5 linked regions of the Homo sapiens genome follow. The protein of the gene in region 5 purifies or fractionates together with the protein of the main gene of each other region. This does not show direct contact. Each region holds a gene or a part of one and is shown on either strand. Other genes may lie near its edges. The genes, in order: OCRL, CLGN, HADHB, CD44 and GLG1.

Region 1 (5,097 bases), on a different chromosome or scaffold from region 5:
TCAGTAAGAACAAGTAGCTTTCTTTTCTAAAGAATTCCCACAAGTACATTCATAAGCTATGCAAAAAATAAATCAAAATACCTCCCACAGAGGATAACAGCAGAGCTTTGCTCTTATATCCTAGGAACTGTCACTGTTAGAACTGACCCCAAGTCTTAGTTTCTATGCAGAATATATAGATTCCTACGGGTTTCAAGAAAATTAGATGCTTCCTTACACCATTTTAGGTATCTGTTCATTTCTGTTCTCACAAATTTGACCCGCAAGTTAACTCTCGTGTATAGTCTACAGTAGGTTTTACCAACAGTCTTTTTTAAAAAAGGCAAAACATCATGTAAATGAACACCAAACATATAGCCAAAAGGAAATTCCAGAAGTGTTCTTTACCCAATGCAGTAGATATCAGGAGGATTGGGATCACAGTTCAGCCAAGGTTCTAACCCGCTATCTGGAGACTGGCCATTCACATTCCAAGTTCCAACAAAAAATCTAATACATAATACGAAAAGATAATTTGAAAACAAAGATCAAGTATAAACCAACAGAAGTTCTTTCTTTTCGCTTCCATACAAAGGTATGTTCACAATATGCTAACATAATTCCTCAAAATGTTTTGCCACATATGTAAGAAAGATCTTTTGCATCTAGAACACAAAGGCAGTGGGCTTATTTTCTCTAAATTTTACATTAAGTAAAACTACAGAAGGAAACCAAGTCTTTATTTTTAAAAAATGCAAAGGTAATTGCTATACCACATTTCCTTTCAATTAAGCTCCATCCAAACTCATACTTGATAGGAGAGCTTATGGATGGGAAAGAGGTATCTTCATGCTGTAAGCTAGTCAAATATGGATAAATGTTCTATAAGGGGCTATAGTTGACTCCAGGAACTCACTTCCTGAAGGATTACAAGGACATCTGTGTAGGAAATTCTGATGAGGCAGACATAGTATTAAGGGGGAAAGCAGAAGGGAAAACTCATGACTGTCTTAACTGTTTACACACAAATATAAGCATAGTGGGGGATATGAGGAACTGCAAGTTTTAGCATAGGGATATAGTTATGACTGAATTAGAATAAATGAGGTATGACAGGATAGCAGATGGGACTAGAATCTTGGACTAGAAGGGTACATTCTGCTCATGAATAACAAAGAAATGTGGTGTTGCTTCATGCATTGGCGATACATGCCACATGGTACCTCACATGCAGCATACACACACAAGTCCAGAAAAAAGATGAAATAAAAAATAATACAGATAAAAGAACCCAAGATAGACCTCCCAATCAAGAGGACTGGGTGAAACTTTCTTTATTTACCAAAGTAAGTAAGTTAAGAGCTAGTGGTAATGATGGACTTTAATTTTCTAATATTGGCTGAAAAAAAAAAACTTAACAGGCCAGATATATAAACACGCTTGCTTATGGAATGTGCTAGGGGAAAATTCTCTAGTACATGTGACCTTGATTTGGTTCTCTAGGACTCAGTAGAGACATTAGTAGACATGGCATTATTAGTAGTTAGAAAATCCAAGGGAAGGCCAAGCACGGTGGCTCAAGCCTGTAATCCTAACACTTTGTGAGGCCAAGGCGGGTGGATTGCCTGAGCTCAGGAATTTGAGACCAGCCTGGGCAACCTGGTGAAACCCAGTCTCTATAAAAAACACAAATATTAGCTGGATGTGGTGGTGTGCACCTGTAGTTCCACCTACTTGCAGGGCTGGCGTGGGAGGATTGCTTACGACTGAGAGGTTGAGGCTACAGTAAGCCATGATCTATCTGCTCTCCAGCCTGGGTGACAAAGAGAGACCCTGACCCACACACACAAAAAAAGAAAATCCAAGGGAAACTGTAGCATCTGCATTATTTCTGATATGCATGTTATTGGCCAGCATAGAGACAGGAGCTTGAAACAGGCAACCATTCCTTTTTATCATATTTTGATTCTTAATTAGGCTAATGTCTTAAATATCAACAGGCCACTGTCTGTTATATATACTAACTTTTTAGACTCAGGAAGCAAAAGAGACACTAACCTGAAAGTCTGAATGTTGACATATTCTTTCTCTCGCTTTGCCAGGATATGTTTGATGAGACCCTCCCGCTGCCCAGATTGGGTATTTGGTACAAAGAGCTTCCGCATGGTGTTGGTCACTTTGGGCTGCTCCTTGTTAGAAGCTTCTTTTTCACGTGGAAGCCTAGCAAATAAATGAGAGATTCAAAAGTAAAATTGTTTAAACTATAATTCTCCTACAAGGCAAATATGTTTTCACATGGGACTTACATTTTATTCACTGAAAAGGGTGGAGGTGGGGGTTCCCGATGAATCCCAGTAGGCTGATTTTGTGAATTTATTTTCTTGTCCAAATTCATAGAAGAAAAATTGTCTTCAAATCCAAGAAGCCCTGAAAGACACAGACCCCAAAGTCAAACGGGGAAAAAATCTAACATCCAACATATCCAGGGTAACAGGGCTTTGATTTGATCACAATTTGATCAGTGGTATTACTAAACAGAAAACTATCATAAGGGTAGAAATTACTTGGATTGGAGTTCGAAGAAGCATACCTATCCCTGAAGCACTGATATACTAACTAGAACAATAGAAGTTTATAAGAACTTGGAACAGACTAGTAATAGCTAACATTTATTGAAGACTGAGCACAATGCCTGGTTGAGAGTAAGGGACTATATCATGATCTCACTTAATCATCACAAAAACTCCAAGAAGTAAGTACTATTAAAAATCTTCCCATATTACAGAAAGGAAAAGGGAAGTTCAGAGTTGTTGAGTAACTTGATGAAGGTTGTACAACTAGTAAGTTCTTGACTTGGGATTCAAATCCAGGCTGTCTGGCTCTCGAGCTTGTACTTTCTACCACCCTGCTAAGCTGGCTCCTGAACAGCTACCATGCTACAGGAAGGATAAGGAGTGAACACTGGTCAGTGGGCCTGGACTTGATAAAACTACTCTGCAGGAGAATGTGTCTGACATCAGCTTTAATCTACATCACCATATTTGGCCTGACAAAATCTACTGACTCTGCAATGACCATAGCAACAAGGAAACCAGGAACTTTTTAGTACCTGAAAAAACAGAAGGTTTGTCCTTAGTGTCTAATTTCTGGTACCAGCTAGATGAGTCCTTTTGCTCTGGAACAAGAAGCTGTGACTGAGCTAGAGAGATAAGGTTCATGGTCAGAAACTGGGAAGTCTTTCACTGAGTAGAATTTACTATAGCCAAAAGCCATTCTTTCAACATTCCTTATATGCAGGGGCCAGCACCATTTTTGGATACAGTGGAAGAAACTAAGGAAATGAGGGCAGCTCTGGGGTCATCTAGGGGCAGAAGGAGAATTATAGTCTATGGTAAGCTGTGCTTGCCATGACACTGAATATTCTGAAAACTTGCCTAGTGTCCTTAAAGCTGGGCAGATTTTTTCCCTAACCTATCCCTGTGTTCACTCCTGAAGAAAAAAAAATCAGCTATCAGGGCTTAAAGGGTGAGGTATTTTGCCAATGGCCACTTTCCTCTGTATCAGCATGTCAGAATTCCACTCCCGTTGAAATAGAAGAAAGAAAATCGCTGAGTCTTTAGTTACCTTTCTGAGCAGCAAGGACAGCTGAGAGGAACTTCAAACAGTGTTCCTCATCAGGGATTTCAAAGCGGCGCTCTCTGATCCAGTCCCCCTGAACCCGAATTTTGCAGCCACCTAAAAAGAATTGAAATCCATACATATACTGCTATGGGATAAAATGTTTTACTGGGATCATATTCTCAACTTATCAGGTTAACAGAAGAAGGTCCAGATCACAAATATTCCAGATCTCTAATATAGGAAGCACACATACAAGATCAAGAGAGTCAGTATGACGGTGGTGGAAGGGGTGATGCAGAGAGGGAACCCTAAGGGAAGTGAGAACTCCTAAGGCTGATGAACCGTGTCCATGAGCAGCCCGATCTAAGGATATGACACATACTAAAATTATACTTTCCTGCGTTCTGATCTATCTCTCAGACATCAAAGCAGGGACCTTCAAATTCCAGCAAAAGGTAAATTCCTCAATCACCCTCCCTCCCATTCCTTAGCTGGAAATTCCTACCATTTCAAGTCCAGATCACATTGTCAGAGTATCTGAAGCATGAAGGGAATAAAATAAGTAGGATGGTTTGTCCGTAAGCACAGATTAAATTTACAAAATAACTTAAAAATAGTGATACTGGTTTGAAGTATTCTGAAAAGAAGCATCTACAACTCATTACCTCAAGTTTAAAATGTATGTCTTGAATAAACATACAAAAACAATATAATGACCTATGCTCAGAAGTGGTTTGGTTCAAGTACAGCCAATTGGAAACTAGGAGAATTAGAAGCAAAGTTAGCTAGGGCTTTAATTTATTATGTGTATAACATATTGTCTCCCCTTTTTTGATGCCCTATAGTTATCATCTATATCAACTGTTTGGATGTGGTGATCCAGGAAACCTATGTACTTGTTTCTATTCTTATTGTAACTGATTTATTACATACGTTGTTTTCTCATGCCTCTGGAAACTACAAGCTCCTTAAGGGCAAGAGGCAGGGTACGCATGCAGGGTGCACATACAGCGAACCCAGCACTTTCAGGAGTCTAGGGTGACCAACTGTCCCAGCACTGTATGGTACTCAGAGGCTTCCTAGGACTCAGGACTTCCAATGCTAAGACTGGGAAAGTCCCAGGCAAATAAGGCTTGCTGGTCACTCTACTGGTGACAGTAACATCAGACTTCACAGACAGAAGGTATTTAATGACTGATGAACTGGACTCTTTACCACGTGTAAATAACAAATACATGAGAAAATGAAATGAAAATCCTAGTTTTTATGGTGGAAATCCACTTCTGAACCTTTAGCTTTTTGTCCTCTGCATTTCTTCTTCTTTCTGTCTTTGTAAAATGAGTTACAAAAAGGAAAATAAAATAATTAATTAGAAGAAAATAGATAAAAATGGAGAAAAATGTGAAAGAAGGCACCCAAATAGACTACGGATAAGAAAATTAATGAGGGTGCCACTGTAGAGGGGAAAAAAGAGAGGGAAGGAAAAAAGTGTCAATT
Region 2 (5,097 bases), on a different chromosome or scaffold from region 5:
AATTCAAAGGAGAGTGAATGTTTGTCTCCTCTTAATATTGATAAAATGAAATGGGGTAAATAAAATGAAGAGATTTATATTCAATGCTATAAATGCTGATTTACAACATAACTTTACTATAAAGCTGCTTTTCCCAAATTGTATACATGTTAATATATATGAATATAATTAAAGATGAAGAATATCCTAACTCAAAACGTAGGAAGTAAAGGCCTGGCGCAGTGCTTCACACCTGTAATCCCAGCACTTTGGGAGGCCAAGGTGGGTGGATCACGAGGTCAGGAGATCAAGACCATCCTGTCTAACATGGTGAAACCCTGTCTCTACTAAAAATACAAAAAATTAGCCGGGTGTGGTGGCAGGCGCCTGTAGCCCCAGCTACTCGGGAGGCTGAGGCAGGAGAATGGCGTGAACCCGGGAGGCAGGGCTTGCAGTGAGCCGAGATCATGCCACTGCACTCCAGCCTGGGCAACTGGGCAACAGAGTGAGACTGTCTCAAAAAAAAAATAAATAAATAAATAAAAATAAAATTAAAAAAGGAAGTATGTTAGCTCATTAAAGACTGAGAAGTTCTACATATGAAAACCTGTTTTCAGCATTACTACTGTGTTTCCCAAACACATTTGATCACATAAGTTTATTTTCCCACCTAACAGTAATTGCTATTTCATGGAACAATTTGAGAAATGATACTCTAAAGAAATTAAGGTTACCATATACTCTGCATATGTCCTTGGTTTTCCTATGACTGGAAGTTTAGCAGTAGTCAAGCTGTATGATAAACATTTTGTTGATCCTCTAATCCATTGTGAATCATTTATACTAGGTAAAAGTTAATTATTTGAAAACTCTAAAAGTTTGCAGTATAAGAAATGGACAAGGTGATTGAATCTAGGCATAATGGAACAATGAAACTGTGTTCACATTTATGCAGCCACTGTACAAAATTGTTTTTTCCAATTCTTACCTTTTTACAGAATGCTCTGTCCTGAGATAATCTATTATAAAGCAAAATCTTTTTAATTTTTTTTCTAAAAACAGTGACCTTTAAGTCATATCATGCACCACGTGTTCTACTTATAGTCTTCAAATACTTAAATTCCATGAAAAACAAAATTTTGTCAGCTATTGCTTAAAATAAAGATAAGACTTTGAGGAAAACAAACTGTCCTCTATTTAAAAAATGAAAAAGAACGAAAGAATACCTTCCTTCTGATTATCATAGAAGCATTTTGAGCATGTATTTGCCCCTCATTGGGCATGATATCCTTTAATCATCATAACAATCCTTTGAGGTGTAAGTATGGGCCATGTCTGCATATTATAGATGAGCAAATAGAGACTTAGAGCTTAAATGACTTGCCGTTACCCAAGGAGTCACTAGAGTAAGTGGCAGAATCAAGAATAACTCTCAGGTCATTTTGACTTTAAAGTACATGCTTGTGGCCACTGTTGTAGATAGCTTAAGAAATAAAGCATGGTAAAAAGTATAGGAGAAAATCACCCCTTTCAAATCAGAGATACTTAAAATTTTGTTTCCTTTTTTTTAATACAAAATATGTACACCAATTGAGTTCAAACTGTTAAAATTTTGTATACTATCATGTTTTACCTTCTTGTCACTAAATTTCTTCAGAAACATTTACAACTATAGTCCTTTATTAAAATGATCATTATTTCTGGTTATTTCTCTAGTTTTCATGTCTTTTTGATTTAATTCATTTAATGAAATCATAACCTTTTTTGTTTTTACTGTTTGACAGCCATTTCCTTGTTGATTTTTGTCACATATAATTCGTTAATTTAACAACAAAAAATCTCGTAAGTCTATGCCTCATTGCCATAGCAAGGCTATTTCCTTTTAAAGTTACCAATAAAGAAAAAAAAACTTTGCTGAGAATTACACTGTGTTGTAAATTCATAAGAGACTCTCATGTTCATTCTTTTAGCTGTTATACTAAACAGTGAAAATTTCCCATATCTCCTGGCTGTTTAGGTCTGAAATCCAGCTTATTGACTGAGATTATGAATCTCTTTGCTGGAGCTATTTAATTAAATGTACAACTTATTTAACATGGTAAGGTGTAATGAACTCTAGGTATCTAAGATCATTAGCAATTTCGTAGAAATCTTGCTGTAGCTGTGGTTCTTACGGCCTTTATTTTTTTTTAGTTTATAAAGTGTAAGTATAGTGCTTACCTTATCAGAATTTGAAATTTCCTGTTGTAGTTTTAGTTACAGTATCTTATGCTTAATTTATCAGTTTTGATGGAAAAAAATTTAAACAAATTGATTGGTTTGTCTGCAGTTGATTGTAATCATTCTATTTTTAATATTTTAATGATGTGTCTTGTTTTAGAGTAGTAGAAAAGCGTTTCTGCTTATTTCCTATAGGTTGTAGATATGCTTTATATGAGTTTTCTGATAATGTAAAAAAATTTATACTTACATGAATTGAGAATAATAAGATTATATTTTAAAGAGCAACTAGTAAATTTTATTTATCAGTAGTACGGTTCTTTTTCCCTTTATTCAGATATGAAGTAAATTTTCAAGATGGTATTGATTGTGGAGGTGCATACATTAAACTCCTAGCAGACACTGATGATTTGATTCTGGTATGATATTTTAATATTTAAGAAAACCTTATTAAAGTTAATAAGTATTTTTAAGGAACAAATGATAAAACTGAATATTTTGTCTTCAACTGAAATTGAAAAGAATTGTAGATATCTTTTTTCAATGTGAATTTACATAGCTCTTACAATTCGCCTTCAAGTTTTATATAAAGCTGTGTTACTTGAAGGCATCAATTTTATAATCTTTAACAACATGAAAAAGTTTACCATGTCTGTAGGACAAAAACTACGTGATACTTATAAATTTCTTTTGAAATATAGCTTAGAGTTATTTTCTTTACAGAATAAGACTCTTAAGTTTGTTTAGAGAAGCATAACAAAGCATAGCAGTGAAACAAAATGGCCGAAGAACCAAATTAAAAGGGGTTAGCAACCCACAGAAAGTAACTAATTTTAAAAACTTTTCATGATGAAATAGGTTTATACTTCTAAGAGGTTGTATTAGGACCATTGGAAAGTTGGGGATATTTCTTATAGCCTTCTCCTGTAAAAGGCTGTTTCAGACTTTCTGCATATAACAGAAATACGATAGATGAGACATCAGGGGTATATTTTTCAGAACACTTAGCTGTACATAAGCTATGAAATGTAGATGGGAGACTTTTTCATGTACTACTCATTATTATTAGGATCAAGTGAAGGAGAGGCCATTGGAGTATATGTTGAAGCTCTTGTTTTAGATGAACACTTGAAGGTAGGATGACAAAAAAATCTAATGCCAAGTATTTCTATAAGCACTTTATCTGATTAATTCACTTAATCCTTAGAGAACTCTTATAAGGTAGGTACTATTATCATCTCCATACTTCAGAGGTGATGAAATGGAGGTGCAGAGAGCTTTAAAAAATTTGAGTCAGGGTGACACCCAACTAGTTTAAGAGGCAGTGGTAGGATTTGAACCCCAGTATCTGACTCCATGCCCCATGCTGTTAACCACTATGCCATGCCAAATAAAGAGAAATTCATGTCCTCGTGTCTGTTTTTATGTCTGAATGAATCTCTCTTCATCTTGTGCTCAGAGGGTCATTTTCTGGTATCTTCCTAAGTAATAGTAATGGGTGATAATTTTAGTCTTAAGGCCATAAATATGCTTTCCTCTAATGCCTAATTCTCTCAATAAAAATATTAGTAATATAGATTTACATAGAGAGTTAAAGCATATTATGGTGTTGCTAGAGTATTTTCAGCTTCTGTCCCACATCGTCAGGAAGTAGTGTGTACTTAAAAAAATCTATATTGAAGTAAAATTTGTCATTTTCCCATGTCCTTTATTGTCACTTGTATTAAATAGCTAGCTCTCTGGTGAATTACCATTTAATATATTTTTGTAAACTCTACCCATTGGATAAAATACAGAAATGCATTAAATAGTCTGTGATTCTGGACTAATGCCAACACTCATCTCTCTTTGAAGGAAAACTTTTATGATAAAACATCCTATATCATTATGTTTGGACCAGATAAATGTGGAGAAGATTATAAACTTCATTTTATCTTCAGACATAAACATCCCAAAACTGGAGTTTTCGAAGAGAAACATGCCAAACCTCCAGATGTAGACCTTAAAAAGTTCTTTACAGACAGGAAGACTCATCTTTATACCCTTGGTATACCCTTTTAATTCATTCATGTATTCAAAAATATTTGCTGACTATTGATGTATTCATGGCAAGTGCTTTACAAGAAAACAAATGTGTACCCCATCCTGAAGGAGCTTATCTTTTTCAGAAAATAGGACATGTATAATGACAGCACGGGTAGAAAATAAAGTACCATATAAGAAAGAGAGATGAGGCACAGCTAAGAGTTCACAAGCAATATTACTTCCAGCTTAGAGACTTGGAACAAAGCTAGGAAAGATTATATTTGAACTCGTCTTGAAGTACAGATAGAATGTTGAAGACAGTAGGGTGAAAGGACATTTTAGACGTTGTGACAGTGGTGCTGTAAGAACAGAAAACTAGAAAATAAAAAGGAAGAGGCCAGAACAGAAAACTAAAAAATAAAAAGGAAGAGGCCCTTAATGCCAGACTAAAAAGTTTAGACTTTATTCTGTAGGCAGTTGTGATTATTGTTATGTCCTACCTTGTGTTGGTTGTGGCATGTACTTCGAAAGGAGAAGCATTGAGCAGCCATATATTAATATACTTAAGTAAATAGGAATTTGCATAGATATGGGGGTGAGGGACATCATAAGCAGTTGTTTCTCCCATTCTCAAGTATAATGGCTGTAGAGCTCTGGTCAGCCCACTATCAAAATCAGAGCATATTGGAACCTAATAGGACATTTTGAAATGGCCCTATTGGCTTCCTTTCTCACGTCTCAACTCCACCCAAGATTAAAGTATTTCAATCTTTTTCCCCAAATGCTGCAGTGGTAGAAACATTCATTTTGTCTGCTCGGGCAATGCCCATTTCATCTTCAATATCAGATGTGATATAATAAATATCTTTATGA
Region 3 (3,500 bases), on a different chromosome or scaffold from region 5:
AACATTTACTTTACCTCAAATATGCCTTCGGCTTATAACCCATGGCCAGAGCCTTTTCCTCCGCCATGATTAACATTGCAGATGCACCATCAGTCTGAAATGTTAACCAGCACAATGTTAAAATTCTTCAGCCTGTCTGGAGGTCTTTCTCCAGCCATCTTATATATCTGTACCTGAATCTATTAACTCATTAGACTTATACAGTGATTCTATATAACAACACTTACTTCACTGTATCCATCATTAAATCATAATTCAAACATACACACGCTGACTCATTTTTGGAGGATGAGGGTAGAGAAGGCTGTTCAAAAGTATCATAATAATCAAAATGAATCAACAGAAGAGGTAACTTTAGAAATAAATGCTCATGGCCAAGCGTGGTGGCTCATGCCTGTATGCCTGTAATCCCAGCACTTTGGGAGGCTGAGGCGGGCAGATCATGAGGCAGGTGATTGAGACCATCCTGGCTAACGCGGTGAAACCCCATCTCTACTAAAAATAGAAAAACTTAGCCAGGTGTGGTGGCACACACCTGTAGTCCCAGCTACTTGGGAGGCTGAGGCTGAGGCAGGAGAATTGCTTGAACCTGGGAGGCGGAGGTTGCAGTGAGCTGAGATCGTGCCACTGCATTCCAGCCTGGGTGACAAAGCCAGACTCTGTCTCAAAAAAAAAAAAAAAAAAAAAGAAAGAACTGCTCATAATAAACACTAAACACTTATTTAAGCCAAAGTTTTTAGCTTGTGGCACAAAATATGAACCAAAATAAACATATCTCTTATTTATTTATTTTTACATTTTCTGGGCTCTCAGCTGCTTTCTGCCCGTGGCTTACAGGTCATTTTATTCTACTTATATATTCTGTAACGAGCAAACCAATGGGAGAACCAGCTGAGGACATTAGAACCACAATCTTCCCTCTTTGGATACACCCCATACATTTCTTCCCAAATGACAACCGAGAAGCTGGAGGACAAAGAAGTACTACTGAAAAAACGTCCTTTACCATACTTCAAAGAAGAAAAGCTCCCCCAAAAACTTCAGAATTCCAAAGAAAAGGAAACTATTCTTCATAATTTGTAAAATCAAAATAAGTTCTACCACATTCTGTCGTATTTTTATAACTCGGCAACCCTGAAGAGACTGTGTAGCCACCAATAGGGTGTCCATAAAGTCTGGAGACATAGGTGACCATATGGAATAAATGGTTTACAGACATTACATTAATAACAGGTTCAATGTGCCATTGTGCAAAATTGCAATGAATGTGGGGCACTAATGCAGTCCCCAAAATCCATGTATTGTGATGTGTCACCTCTGATGATTTGTGTCTCTGATTCTCACTAAATAAACCTGGACCTTTAGCATACCCTGGAAATAATCAAAAGGATTCAGATCTGGCAAGTGTAGTCCATGCCACATGGCTCTATCATCCAATTCGGTTTTGCAAATGACCAACCTAACCAGCTCTTCACCACCTGGGCTTAACAGGGTGGTGTTCCATCCTGTTGGAACTACTCCAGATTCCACTCCCCTAGCCTATCAAGAGCAGGCATTAATTAGTCATTTACCATGGGCAAATATGTCAAACATCTGCGTATGTTTTCAAGACTTTATGGCCAGGTAGGAGAGTTACATTGTAAGAGAAACTCTGACCAGATGGCCTATATCCAGAAGACTATACCCAAGGTGGTAAGAGAAGAGAAATCACATCTTACAAGCAGCAGCAGAATCAATAAAGATGTTTAATTGAGGAGTCAGAAAAGCATGGAAGGATATGAAGCTACATGTTGATAAGTTAAAAAAAAAACACAAAACAAACAGTGGTAGATTTGTTCCATGATGCTTACAGGAAAATAATATTGGGGTCAGTGTAAAGCAGTTTTCTAACAATCAGGGCTGGAAGAGGTATCCTGTTACTCTTTCTGCCTGCTTTTCCTTGTCTTCTGCGACTTCCCAGTTCATACCTTATGCTCCAACCTAACTTTTCCCCAAAGAACCCCTTGCTCTCATACTTCCTTGATTTTGCATTTGCTATTCCCTTTGTCCAAAATGCCTTTTTTTTTTTTTTTTTTTTTTTTTTTTGAGATGGGAGTTTCGCTCTTGTGCAGGCTGGAGTGCAATGGTGCGATCTTGGCTCACCGCAACCTCCACGCCTCCAGGGTTCAAGCAATTCTCTTGCCTCAGCCTCCCGAGTAGCCGGGATTAACAGGCATGTGCCACCACATCTGGCTAATTTTGTATTTTTAGTAGAGACGGGGTTTCTCCATGTTGCTCAGGCTGGTCTCGAACTCCTGACCTCAGGTGATCTGCCTGCCTCAACCTCCCAAAGTGCTGGGATTACAGGCGTGAGCCACCGCACCCGGCCTGAAATGCCTTTTAAAATCCTTCCTGAGTTGGCTTTTACTCTTCCTTCAAGATTTGCTGCTCAAGTGTTACCTCTTCCAAGAAGACTCTCTGACTGTCCCCCCATCTGGGTCAGGGGTTCGACCTAAGCCTTACAGCCATCACAGCATCTCACTATATTGCAATTGTCTATTCTTTTCATTTCCAGGGCCCACCATAAGCAATAGAAGTTTTTGACTGGTTAAGTGCCTGAAAGGAAGAGCTTTTGTGGCAGAATGGTGGCTGGATTAGGTGACTTCTCGGGCCTTAAAACCGTGATTCTATTTTTTTTTTAATGACTCCACTTTCACATTAAAATGAATAACTATATTTTTAACCCTCTATTCATAACACACACAAAAAGTTATATTAGGCTTTTCTACAGAGAGTACAGAAATAGAAAAGTCACTACTAAATACAAATAACATTGACAGTTACCAAGAAAGAAGAATTTGCAGCTGTCACTGTGCCGTAGGGCTTGATGAATGCAGGTTTTAGTTTGGCCATCTGCTCCAGTGAGGAAGGACGGATGCCATTATCTTTGGTAACTGTATCTTTTCCTATTAAAAAAATGAATTTTTTTAACTCTATGGAACCACAAGCCTTATATATCTTCTCCACAGAAATATGCTTTAAAAATTACAAAAACAAATGAAATATAAACCTTACCTATTCACTAGAAGGAAAGTGTTTTATAATTATCATATTATCAAATTTTAAACTAAAGTCTTAAAAGACAATTGGGAAATCATCTAAATGCTTTACTAAAAATAGGACACCCTATTTTCTTAAGACATTCATTCACAGTTGGCTATTCTATACAGAAGTCAGACGATTCAGGAATTTTAAAAACAGGCATGTATGTAAGAACTAAAATATATCAGCAAGATCTAAAAGGAGACTCTGTTTTTCTTTTTTTTTTTTTTAATTAGAGATGAAGTCTCACGCTGTTGACCAGGCTGGTCTTGAACTCCTGGCCTCAAGCGATCCTCCTGCCTCAGCCTCCCAAAGTGCTGAGATTAGTGCTCAGATCTTAAAAGGACACTCTTATAGAAACATTAAAAAATGTTAACCTATTGTTACAACATAAATCAAAATTTGCATCCATATTTAAG
Region 4 (5,097 bases), on a different chromosome or scaffold from region 5:
AATATCGCTGTCTGTTGTATAAAGGAATCTACTCTATAATGTGGGTCCAGACTTTACAATATGATTCTGCAAAGTCTGGCTGTGAGAAAGCATTTTGTCAGAACTCCAGTGTTTGAAGAAATAGAGCCAGACATTATGTGAAAAGTGACACCTGTCTGATGTCATTTGGCCTTTTGGCCATGCCTGTTCAGTAATTTGTTTTTGAGTATAAAAAAGGTATCTTCTCTATTCTTGAATTGTGAGATTGTGGAAATTGGAATCCAGTCTTATCATCATCTCTAAGTGATACCAGATAACTTGGCTTTGCAAGCTCCCATGCAGGATTCTTTTGTCTGTGTGACATAAGTATTAAAATGTGTCCTGCCTTATAAAGAATGTGAATTCCATATTCTCACTTGGTATCAGTGAGAAATATTCCCATATTTCTATTTGCAACATAGAAGATAATGCATCATGTCCTTCTGGGGCATGGCAAGTTCTAAATGAATTCCTGGCAGAGCAATGGATTCTGTGATTGTCTATGTGGTGTAGTTGTTGCTAAGAGGATGCTATTGTAATCTTTTCTACCTATACTTCTTCATTGGCTCAGAATGAAGCAAGGCATGTGCTGCTTTCTTATATGTCATTTATGCCATAAATCCCATTGTTAGAAGGTAATGCTTCTAACGGATTCCATTCATGCTTTTGAGATAAATGGCATTGACTTTCATATTGATCACATGGAAAGCTGTTACCTGATTCCTTTCCTGAGATCACTTCCAGCCTAATGTGCATTTGGCTGGAATATGGTTGTCTCAGAATAACATCATGCACTCGGGCTTTTATACTTCTGCCTTTAGGGGACTGTGGCAGCATGGCATGGGTCAAGAAGTACTTCTCCTTCATCTTCCTTTGATGTCGGTAACTCATCCTTTCTGCACTGCGGGAGTTGTTAATGCTTTTGTGTCCTCCAGTTCACATGCTGATTGCTAAGAAGAAAATGAGCATGAGTGAACCCAAAGCTGCTGAAACATTCTGCGTTTATGCAACTTCCTTGCCCTCTATACAAGGAAGATGGTTTCATTGTCTTGTCTAGAGAATAAAGTCTTTTTTAAAAATAAAATCGGTGTATCCCTGACCAAGCGTCCATTAACACTTTGACAATTGCTCAAACTGCATGGTCACAGCAGCCTCAGCTCATACCAGCCATCCAATGCAAGGAAGGACAACACCAAGCCCAGAGGACAGTTCCTGGACTGATTTCTTCAACCCAATCTCACACCCCATGGGACGAGGTCATCAAGCAGGAAGAAGGATGGGTAATAGCCTCTGAGATTTTTATATATTATGTTTTTTGAAATCCACTGAGTGACTGCTGACTATTTTTCTAGAAATATGCCCTTGGTTTTAGACCAAACTACTTTCCTGAAGGACCTGAGGTTCTTCAAAAATTAGTTTTCTTGGTAGGAGTGATACTCATATTCACCTGAATATGAAGTTCTGAGCTGAAAGTAAGGAATTTAGCAGGAGGGTTGGCAAAAGAAAAAACTTATTGTCAAAATATATCTGTGTGAGGCAGTAAGTAATAGATATGAAATGAATGTTGCCAACAATAAACGCTAAAGAAATTCTGAGAACCCCTCCCTGCCCACCACAGCATCACAGAAAGGTGAATTGGACTTGGTTTATGAAAAATAAAAAAACCCTGGATAGTCAGAGAAAGGAAGTGGGTGGTGGGGGTTGGTGGGGGGGGCAGTTTTCCTAAGAAGGAGACTCCTGTAAGGAGAAACGTGAAGGAAGAAAAGCCAAGGAATGAATATGTCAGTGAGTGGATCCATTTTTCACAAGGGAAGATGTGTTTGAATGGCTAGGCAGGGGCCATTATGTTGAGTGACTGAAGTACCACAGGCAGACCCAGCACACATGAGTTTGCACATGGCAGCTGGAGCTCTGAGGACACCCATGGGGGAAAACCAAGCCAGGCAAAGATCTTCAGAATCAATATTAATTCTATGTACTGATGAAGAGAAAGAGATTCCATTAAATTAATGAACATGTCAAGGACAATACAATTGGCTTCAACTACACAATGGTATGATGACTCTTGAAGGACTCTACTTATAAGAGGGAAGATGAACAAGAGTCTAGAGCCCATCATCAAGTGGGACTTTTTCTGGGAGAATGTCCATTTGTGGTTTTGATTCAGGTTAGCACTTGCTCTTGTTTGAAATCTGGGATAACAGGGTCACCACATTTTTGTCCTACAAAGATCTTTAATATTTTAGTGTTGAATATTTAGTGTTGAATCTTGAATATTTAGTGTTGAAAGGCTGCAGTGCAGACCTGGGTACCCAGTATTCTGGTGCTTCACTGGGACTGATTAAATCTCCCCCAGAGGCAGTGATGTGGATAGACTTTGACTGAATTGACAGCCAGAAATATCGATGGGGTTTATGAATTGTTTGGCCTCTGTTTCACTCAAGACTTCTTATTTCAGCAGAGTAGATCTGTGATAACTGTTAAAAACAACATTTACAAGTATTTCAGTGAAATTTCTGCACTACTCAACATTGTACATGTTAAATTTTAAAGACCGCTTATACTTGGGTTTTTGGGAAGAATAATTCAATGACGTCCACTGCTTCTTATTTCTTGCCCCTGTATACTTTCTGTAACTCCACCTAGGTGGTCTTGGATGACGATTCTGTTTATTTGCATATTCACTTTGTGAAGAAAAAAAGACTAAAGGGGGGAAGAGGGCTATTTTTAAAAGTCCCTTTGGTTGGTAAGGGGGAGGGGATAAAATGGTGCCTGAGCCAGCACACTTTGTCTTTTCTCCATGTGTCAGATTGCATGTTTCTATAAAAAAGGCAATGTTTCTGTCTCTCTGCAAGATTTGGGTGTTCCATCATGCACTCATGTGGAGTCCTTCCAGACTCAGCAAAAACAAACACACAGCATAGCTTTCATATAACTCGGCCCTTCAAGGAAAGCCAGTTACTTGTTGTGGTGCTCTTTGATGAAACAATAATCTATCTCAGTTCGGGAGATATAGTCAGTATGTGCTTTCTTTCCTCTTGGCCAGATGTGAATATTTAAAAAAATCAGCTGTAGACCATAAGCCACCTTCAGGTAGTGGTTTGGGAAATCAAGCAATAACACTAATATTGATTCCTTCAGATATGGACTCCAGTCATAGTATAACGCTTCAGCCTACTGCAAATCCAAACACAGGTTTGGTGGAAGATTTGGACAGGACAGGACCTCTTTCAATGACAACGCGTAAGAATAACGATGCTCAGCCACTTTATTGACTTGTATTCCTGCTTCATCTCTTACTCGCTATTGGCCAAGATGCAGAGCTTTGGTGGTGGAATGGTGCTATGTGGCTTACTTCAGCCCAGAGTGTGAAACTGTCTTCATTGTCTGTATTTCTTGTGGAGGTCTCTCAACCTGATTTTCCCTTCATTTCTTTGTGCCTTCCAGATTTAATGACTTTGTGTTTTAAGAAAAAGTAGGACTCTATTCAACTCCATTTTCATTCTCTAAGTAGTTATGTCAGTGAAACACATGCCCACTTCCAGGATAGTGATTTCTCTATGTTTTAACTGACCATTTCCTTTCAATGTCCATCTTTCCTCCAGCCAGTGCAGAAGAGGGGTAGGATTGCTTGCATGGTTGTAAAAAGACATTTTTGGGGCCAGATAATCCTAGAGATCACATCAGTTCTCAGAGGAGAGGCAAGGCATGTTATTGACAATCAACAAAGGTGGCGGGATCCCTGGAACAACAACAACAACAAAACATTGCTAGTATCTCTTTCTATCACTAAGAAATGTTCAAATTCTAGTAGCCTTAATTTCTACTCTATGTGCAGGGATGTCCTAGAGATCAGCCTAAAGTCGTTCATAATTTCTTTGAGGAATACAAAAGAAATCTAGAATTAAGAAGGTCCCATTTTACTGCTTGCCACACATAATGGGCAGAGTCCTTCATATGAGCCCTTTAGGCAAAGGAAAAAAATCAGCAAGCATGTATTGATGGTCAGCAATGTAAATAGCACAGCGTTAAGCATCAAAGGAGATGCAAATAAGCCTATGAATGGTCCTTGCCAAAGAAGGACTTATATTTCCGTTTTATGTCACTGTTGGCTTTTGTTCTGACATTGGGTTTGGGATTTAGTGACTGTCTTTCTCCTGGTTGTAATATTTATTCGGTGGTGGGCATGGCTTATGGGTGTGCTTTATGAAGTTTTTGCACCTGCAACTCAGGTCAGTACCTTTCTTAAAAGAACACAAAAGAAATAAACTTGAAACAGTCCAAGTGATTTTAGATATGGGCAATGGGTCAACCTCCAGTTGATATATGTCACTGAGGGCCCTGTGTTTGCCCAGGCAAGCGTTTCCTTGGTGCAGTGATGAAAATCCCAATGCACAGGTGAAATTAAGAAATAACTTAATAATGGAGTAAAATGGTAACTTTAATTTAATGACCTTTACAAGGTAGCTAAGTATTTCCTTGTATAAATTTGATCTGTGTTACTTGAGTAGGCTATTCTAGATAGGCTTCTTTTTCTTTTGTGGTTACAACTAGACTACAGGCTATCATAGTGTTCATTTTCCCTGCCGTCACATTTCTTGACACACAGTTAGGTGCTTTTGGTTACTGATAGGAGCATTGGGATTCAAATATTCTTTTTTCCATGTCTCTGTGTTCTCTGGTTTTCTGGAGTGACTGGGAGCAATGCTGCAATTGAGCCTGGACAATCCAGGATAGGCAAAGTTTTGGCTCAGTCTTCACCTTGCCACTTTACCTTTGATGATTATACTGAGAAATAAAGGGTCTTCAGAACCAAATAGGGGCAAAATAGAATTCTTCTGTATATTTCTATCAATCAGAGGAGAATTGTGTGCACAAACCTTGGTCTTCCTATGCACCTATCCATCTGACTCTACTCTAGCTAGATTTTCCTTGCTAGCAGATAACAGGATTTGTACCGTAGCTTCAAATTAACACTGGATTCATTCCTCATTGAAACAGAGCAGAGTAATTCTCAGAGCTTCTCTACATCACATGAAGGCTTGGAAGAAGATAAAGACCATCCAACAACTTCTACTC
Region 5 (5,097 bases):
CGAAAGGAAATTTCATTCTGCTTAGTCTGGGAGTTAATTAAATCTGATCTATGTGTTTGAAAGAGCATAACTTAAAGAAGTAAACTAGTTAGGCACATTTGAAGAAACATGTATAGAATATGTTTTGTATTTGCTGTTCAGTAAGTAGAACTATTTGATAGTGAAATAGATATATGTACTTTTCTGTCCCTTTGCATGCAAATGCAGGGAACATTTTCCTATCCGTACCCATTATTGGAATTATGAAAAGGCAGAGCATATGAGTACAGTTGTTCCTTGGTATCACTGGAGGATGGTTCCAGGCCTCCTGCAGATATTGAAATCCAAGGACGCTCAAGTACCTTATACCGTATAAAATGGTGTCGTATTTCCATATCATCTGTGCACACCCTTCCGAATTCTTGTCTTCTCTAAAATACTTGTGATACCTAGTACAGTGCCTACATATCAGTTCATTCATGTGGATTCACTGTAGTACTTGGCATATGTCAAACTTAACTTTTGCTTTTTGGAACCTTATGGAACTTTTCTTTCTGAAAAAAAATTTTTTATTATGGAGACAGGGTCTCGCTCTGTCATCCAGGCTGGAGTGCAGTGGTGCAGTCATAGCTCACTGCAGCCTCAGTCTTCTGGGTTTGAGAGTTCACTGAAGCCTCCACATTCCGGGTTCAAGTGATCTTCCCAGCTGGGCTTTCCAAAGTGCTGGGATTAGAGTTGTGAGCCACTGTGCCTGGCCTTGGGATTCTTTTTTTTTTTTTTTAACGCTCTCGGATGAGTCATGCTTTTAAAAAGGCCAAGTATATCATGGGTCCACTATGAAATAATAGATGTAATAGCCAGTAATGGTGTGTTAGTAGTCCTAGTTGTGTGTGTATAATTATTAGTAGTTCAAGTTATTTAAATAAAAACAAAAAATTAGAAAGTGTAAGGCAGAAAAGAAAAAATATTCCCTGGGCTGTTCTAGTAGGTGGAGTAATAATACCAAAGAAAGAGAAGATACTGTTGCTTAGTATGTGATAAGGAAGGCATGCTTGATGTTGTCAGTCATTTTAAAATACTTTACTTATTCTTGGTTGAAATGGCCAGTAGCACTTTTTTTTTTTCCACTAGTGTCTTGTATTTCGAAGTTTCAGATGGAGACCTTGGTTCCTTAGAAGTTTGTGGTGTTCAGCCGGGCGCAGTGGCTCACACTTGAAATCCTAGCCCTTTGGGAGGCTGAGGCAGGAGGATTGCTTGAGCTAGGAGTTCAGTACCAGCCTGGCAACATAGTGAGACACCGTCTCTAATAAAAAGTTTGTGATGTTCATAGATTAGATTTTCTTTTTTTTTTTTTTTTGAGACGGAGTCTTATTCTGTTGCCAGGCTGGAGTGCAGTGGTGTGATCTCGGCTCACTGCAACCTCTGACTCCCTGGTTCAAGCAGTTCTTCTGCCTCAGCGTCCCAAGTAGCTGGGATTACAGGCACGCACCACCTCGCCCAGCTAATTTTTGTATTTTTAGTAGAGACAGAGTTTCACCATGTTGGCCAGGATAGTCTTGATCTCCTGACCTCATGATCTGCCCACCTTGGTCTCCCAAAGTGCTGGGATTACAGTCATGAGCTATTGCGCCTGGCTGCTGCTGCTGCTGCTGCTGTTGTTGTTGTTGTTGTTGTTTGAGACGAAGTCTTGCCCTGTTGCTCAGGCTGGAGTGCAGTGGCACAATCTTGGCTCACTGCAACCTCTGCCTTCTGGGTTCAAGTGATTCTCCTGTCTCAGCCTCTTCATCACCTTGGCCAGGCTGGTCTTGAACTCCTCACCTTAGGTGATCTGCCTGCGTCGGCCTCCCAAACTGCTGGATTACAGGCATGAGCCATTGTGCGTGCCCCATAGATTTTCTTACACAGAAGTAGAGAGAATAGGGTAATGAGTCCCTGGGTATACATCACCCAGCTTCAACTGTTCCCACCCTTTTTTTTTTTTGAGAGACAGAGTCTCACTCTGTCACCCAGGCTGGAGTGCAGGGGCACGATCTTGGCTCACTGCAACCTCAGCCTCCCGAGTTCAAGCGATTTTCCTGCTTCAGCCTCCCAAGTAGCTGGGACTACAGGCATCCGCCACCACACCCGGCTAATTTTTGTATTTTTTAGTAGAGACAGGGTTTCACTATATTGGCCAGGCTAGTCTCGAACTCCTGACCTCGTGATCTGCCCGCCTCGGCCTCCCAAAGTGCTGGGATTACAGGCGTGAGTCACCGCGCCCAGCCCCGCCCTTTTATTTTTAGGGCACAGGGTTGGGAGGCTGGCATATTTAAAAGCAAATCCCAGATACTGTCATTTCAAATACTTCAAGCATGTCTGTGATAAATACTTTTTAAAAACTAGAAGGTTTTTTTTGTTTGTTTTTGTATTTAAATGTATAATCTTTCTTTTGCAAGTAATTCTGACACTAAAAAGAAAAACATAAAAAAATTCTTTCTTGCCACCTTTTCTTGATATATCAGTCTCAGATTATAAATTTGTAGCCATGCTCTAAGCTTTGCACAGAGTGAATGCTTTGTAAATATTTAAATAAACTAATTTAGGTATTGAACAGGAATTAACATTTCAGTGTTGCAAACCATAAACCCCCTTTTAGACTCATAGGTAAATATTTTTATACTCTGCTTTTAACCTTTCACTTAACTGTATACTTGAGATAGTGGACTACACCATCTCTATTGTCTCACTGTTGATAATGACTATCATTATCAATGATAATGATAATGAGGTGCTAGTGCTAGTGCTAGTGTTATTCTTTTAGCAGAGAAATAGGCTCAAAGAGCTAAAGTAAGTTGTCTGATGTTATATCCTAAGTGGTAGAGCTGGTGTTCAGGAAGTCCTTTTTGACTTAAAAGACCATACTCTTTCTAATGTACCATGGGTGGTTGTAGCTAAGGACATTAGTCTGTGACTGTTGAGAATGCCATAGGTTTATAAATGTATGCTAAATGGGACACAAGAACAACTGAGTTGTAACAGTGCATTGAAGTATTTGTAGATTTCTCAGGCAAATGCGTTATCACCCAACGCTAATTTAATTAGTCTGAGTGCATCATAAACCGAATTTCTGCTTTATGAAAAGAGTTTCAAATCCCAACTCACCTTAAGCAGGATTTGTACTAGAACACTGGAAGCATTTAGTTGTATTTCCTTGATATTTATATTGAATCCATGGAACATCACAAAAAGTGAACTGAGACTAGAGCTGTCAGTGCCATTAACTAACAAATGACTGTAAGCATTTTCTCTCTCTGCTTCCTGATGTGTTAAATGAGTAGTTGGGGTATACTTTTTTTTTTTTTTAATTTTAAGAGAGACAAGGTCTTGCCGGGTTGCCCAGGTTGGTCTCTAACTCCTGAGCTCAACCGACCCACCCTCCTCTGCCTCCCGGATGCTGAGGTTACAGGCGGAGCCACCACACCCTGCCCCTACAGTACGGTTTCTAAGATCTCTGCTGTCTAACTTATATGAGTCGTTTCCTGTATATATTCTCTGGGTATGTATATATTGTAAAGTTTCTAGGATTATATATGTACCAGTTCCTGATTCCATATTCATTCATGGAGGGAATCAGTGACAATGAATAATTCAAACAGCAATTAATCCAAACATTGTTTGGCTTTAGGATATATTATGATTGTTTTGTTTGAGCCAATATGGAATTTCCTCCTATGCTGTCTGTCTGGTTGGAAGCAATCTAACCACATAATCAAGTCATTATTGATCTTCTATTATACACCTATCATTGTGGAAGGACACTAGTACTTTAAGACACCACCATTGCTTACAGTTGGTTTGATAAGTGAGATTGTTGTGATCGAGAAGCGATTATATAAGAGTGTTAATCACTTGATGTCATACAGATAGTAAATTATTTTAGGGCAGTGTAATAAGACAAAATTAGGATTTAGATTTGGGTGGAACACAGCTCTGCTATTCTTAGCTTGAAATTTCTGTCACTGTTTTTTTTTGTTTTTTTTTTTTTTTTTTTTTTTGAGGTGGAATCTTTCTCAGTCGCCCAGATTGGAGTGCAATGGCGTATTCTTGGCTCACTGCAACCTCTGCCTCCTGGGTTCAAGTGATTTTTCTGCCTCAGCCTCCCGAGTAGCTGGGACTGCAGACATGCGCTACCACACCCGGCTAATTTTTGTATTTTTAGTAAAACGGGGGTTTCGCCACACTGGCCAGGCTGGTCTTGAACCTCTGACCTCAAGTGATCTGCCTGTCTTGGCCTCCCAAAGTGCTAGGATTACAGGTGTAAACCAGTGCACCCGGCCTCTTTTCTTAAGCAAGGACTGTCTACTTTAGCTTTGTCCTTGTTCTTTTTTTTCTTTGAAAGTCTTACTCTATCTCCCAGGCTGGCTGGAGTGCAGTGGCATGATCATGGCTCACTGCAACCTCAAACTCCTGGGCTCAAGCTCTCCTCCCACTTCAGCCTCCCGAGTAGCTGGGACTATAGGTACACAACACCACTTAGCCTTGTTCTAAGCGGAAATATACGTGAACTCATGAATTTGATGTGGTAGGTATACTTCTCTAATATATATGAAACTAAATATATGACTATAAAATATAAGTACCAACACATACCACCTGAAATCATCTTGCATATTACCAATAGCACATGCTTCAGAAAGCACTAACACTGGATTATCTTTCTCTGTTGTTTTTTTGTTTTGTTTTGCTTTTGGTTAAGACGGAGTCTCGCACTGTCACCCAGGCTGGAGTGCAGTGGCGCGATCTCACCTCACTGCAACCTTTGTCTCCTGTATTCAAGCGATTCTCCTGGCTCCACCTCTCTAGTAGCAGGGATTACAGGCACCAGCCACCATGCCTGGCTAATTTTTTTTTTGTTTTTTTTTTGAGACAGAGTCTAGCTCTGTCACCCAGGCTGGAGTGCAGTGGCGCGATCTCGGCTCACTGCAAGCTCTACCTCCCGGGTTCACGCCATTCTCCTGCCTCAGCCTCCCGAGTAGCTGGGACTACAGGCGCCCACCACCATGCCCGGCTAATTTTTTGCATTTTTAGTAGAGACGGGGTTTCACCATGTTGGCCAGGATGGTCTCGATCTCCTGACCT

The links.
Region 1: the proteins of GLG1 (region 5) and OCRL purify together in Homo sapiens (co-immunoprecipitation; one large-scale study listed by IntAct). This does not show direct contact.
Region 2: the proteins of GLG1 (region 5) and CLGN purify together in Homo sapiens (co-immunoprecipitation; one large-scale study listed by IntAct). This does not show direct contact.
Region 3: the proteins of GLG1 (region 5) and HADHB purify together in Homo sapiens (co-immunoprecipitation; one large-scale study listed by IntAct). This does not show direct contact.
Region 4: the proteins of GLG1 (region 5) and CD44 purify together in Homo sapiens (co-immunoprecipitation; one large-scale study listed by IntAct). This does not show direct contact.

The regions. Positions count from the first base shown.
Region 1 is NC_000023.11:129,555,942-129,561,038, reverse strand, and holds part of OCRL (inositol polyphosphate 5-phosphatase OCRL), read right to left. Parts: intron 3,715-5,097; coding exon 3,604-3,714; intron 3,179-3,603; coding exon 3,089-3,178; intron 2,407-3,088; coding exon 2,286-2,406; intron 2,200-2,285; coding exon 2,038-2,199; intron 490-2,037; coding exon 388-489; intron 1-387. UniProt on the Homo sapiens protein: Catalyzes the hydrolysis of the 5-position phosphate of phosphatidylinositol 4,5-bisphosphate (PtdIns(4,5)P2) and phosphatidylinositol-3,4,5-bisphosphate (PtdIns(3,4,5)P3), with the greatest catalytic activity towards PtdIns(4,5)P2.
Region 2 is NC_000004.12:140,399,506-140,404,602, reverse strand, and holds part of CLGN (calmegin precursor), read left to right. Parts: intron 1-2,536; coding exon 2,537-2,618; intron 2,619-4,053; coding exon 4,054-4,246; intron 4,247-5,097. UniProt on the Homo sapiens protein: Functions during spermatogenesis as a chaperone for a range of client proteins that are important for sperm adhesion onto the egg zona pellucida and for subsequent penetration of the zona pellucida.
Region 3 is NC_000002.12:26,279,439-26,282,938, reverse strand, and holds part of HADHB (trifunctional enzyme subunit beta, mitochondrial isoform 1 precursor), read right to left. Parts: intron 2,946-3,500; coding exon 2,824-2,945; intron 95-2,823; coding exon 15-94; intron 1-14. UniProt on the Homo sapiens protein: Mitochondrial trifunctional enzyme catalyzes the last three of the four reactions of the mitochondrial beta-oxidation pathway.
Region 4 is NC_000011.10:35,204,946-35,210,042, forward strand, and holds part of CD44 (CD44 antigen isoform 1 precursor), read left to right. Parts: intron 1-839; coding exon of another isoform or gene 840-895; exon of another isoform or gene 896-1,102; intron 1,103-1,166; coding exon 1,167-1,298; intron 1,299-3,159; coding exon 3,160-3,261; intron 3,262-4,672; exon of another isoform or gene 4,673-5,019; coding exon 5,020-5,097. UniProt on the Homo sapiens protein: Cell-surface receptor that plays a role in cell-cell interactions, cell adhesion and migration, helping them to sense and respond to changes in the tissue microenvironment.
Region 5 is NC_000016.10:74,599,648-74,604,744, reverse strand, and holds part of GLG1 (Golgi apparatus protein 1 isoform 3 precursor), read left to right. Parts: intron 1-5,097. UniProt on the Homo sapiens protein: Binds fibroblast growth factor and E-selectin (cell-adhesion lectin on endothelial cells mediating the binding of neutrophils).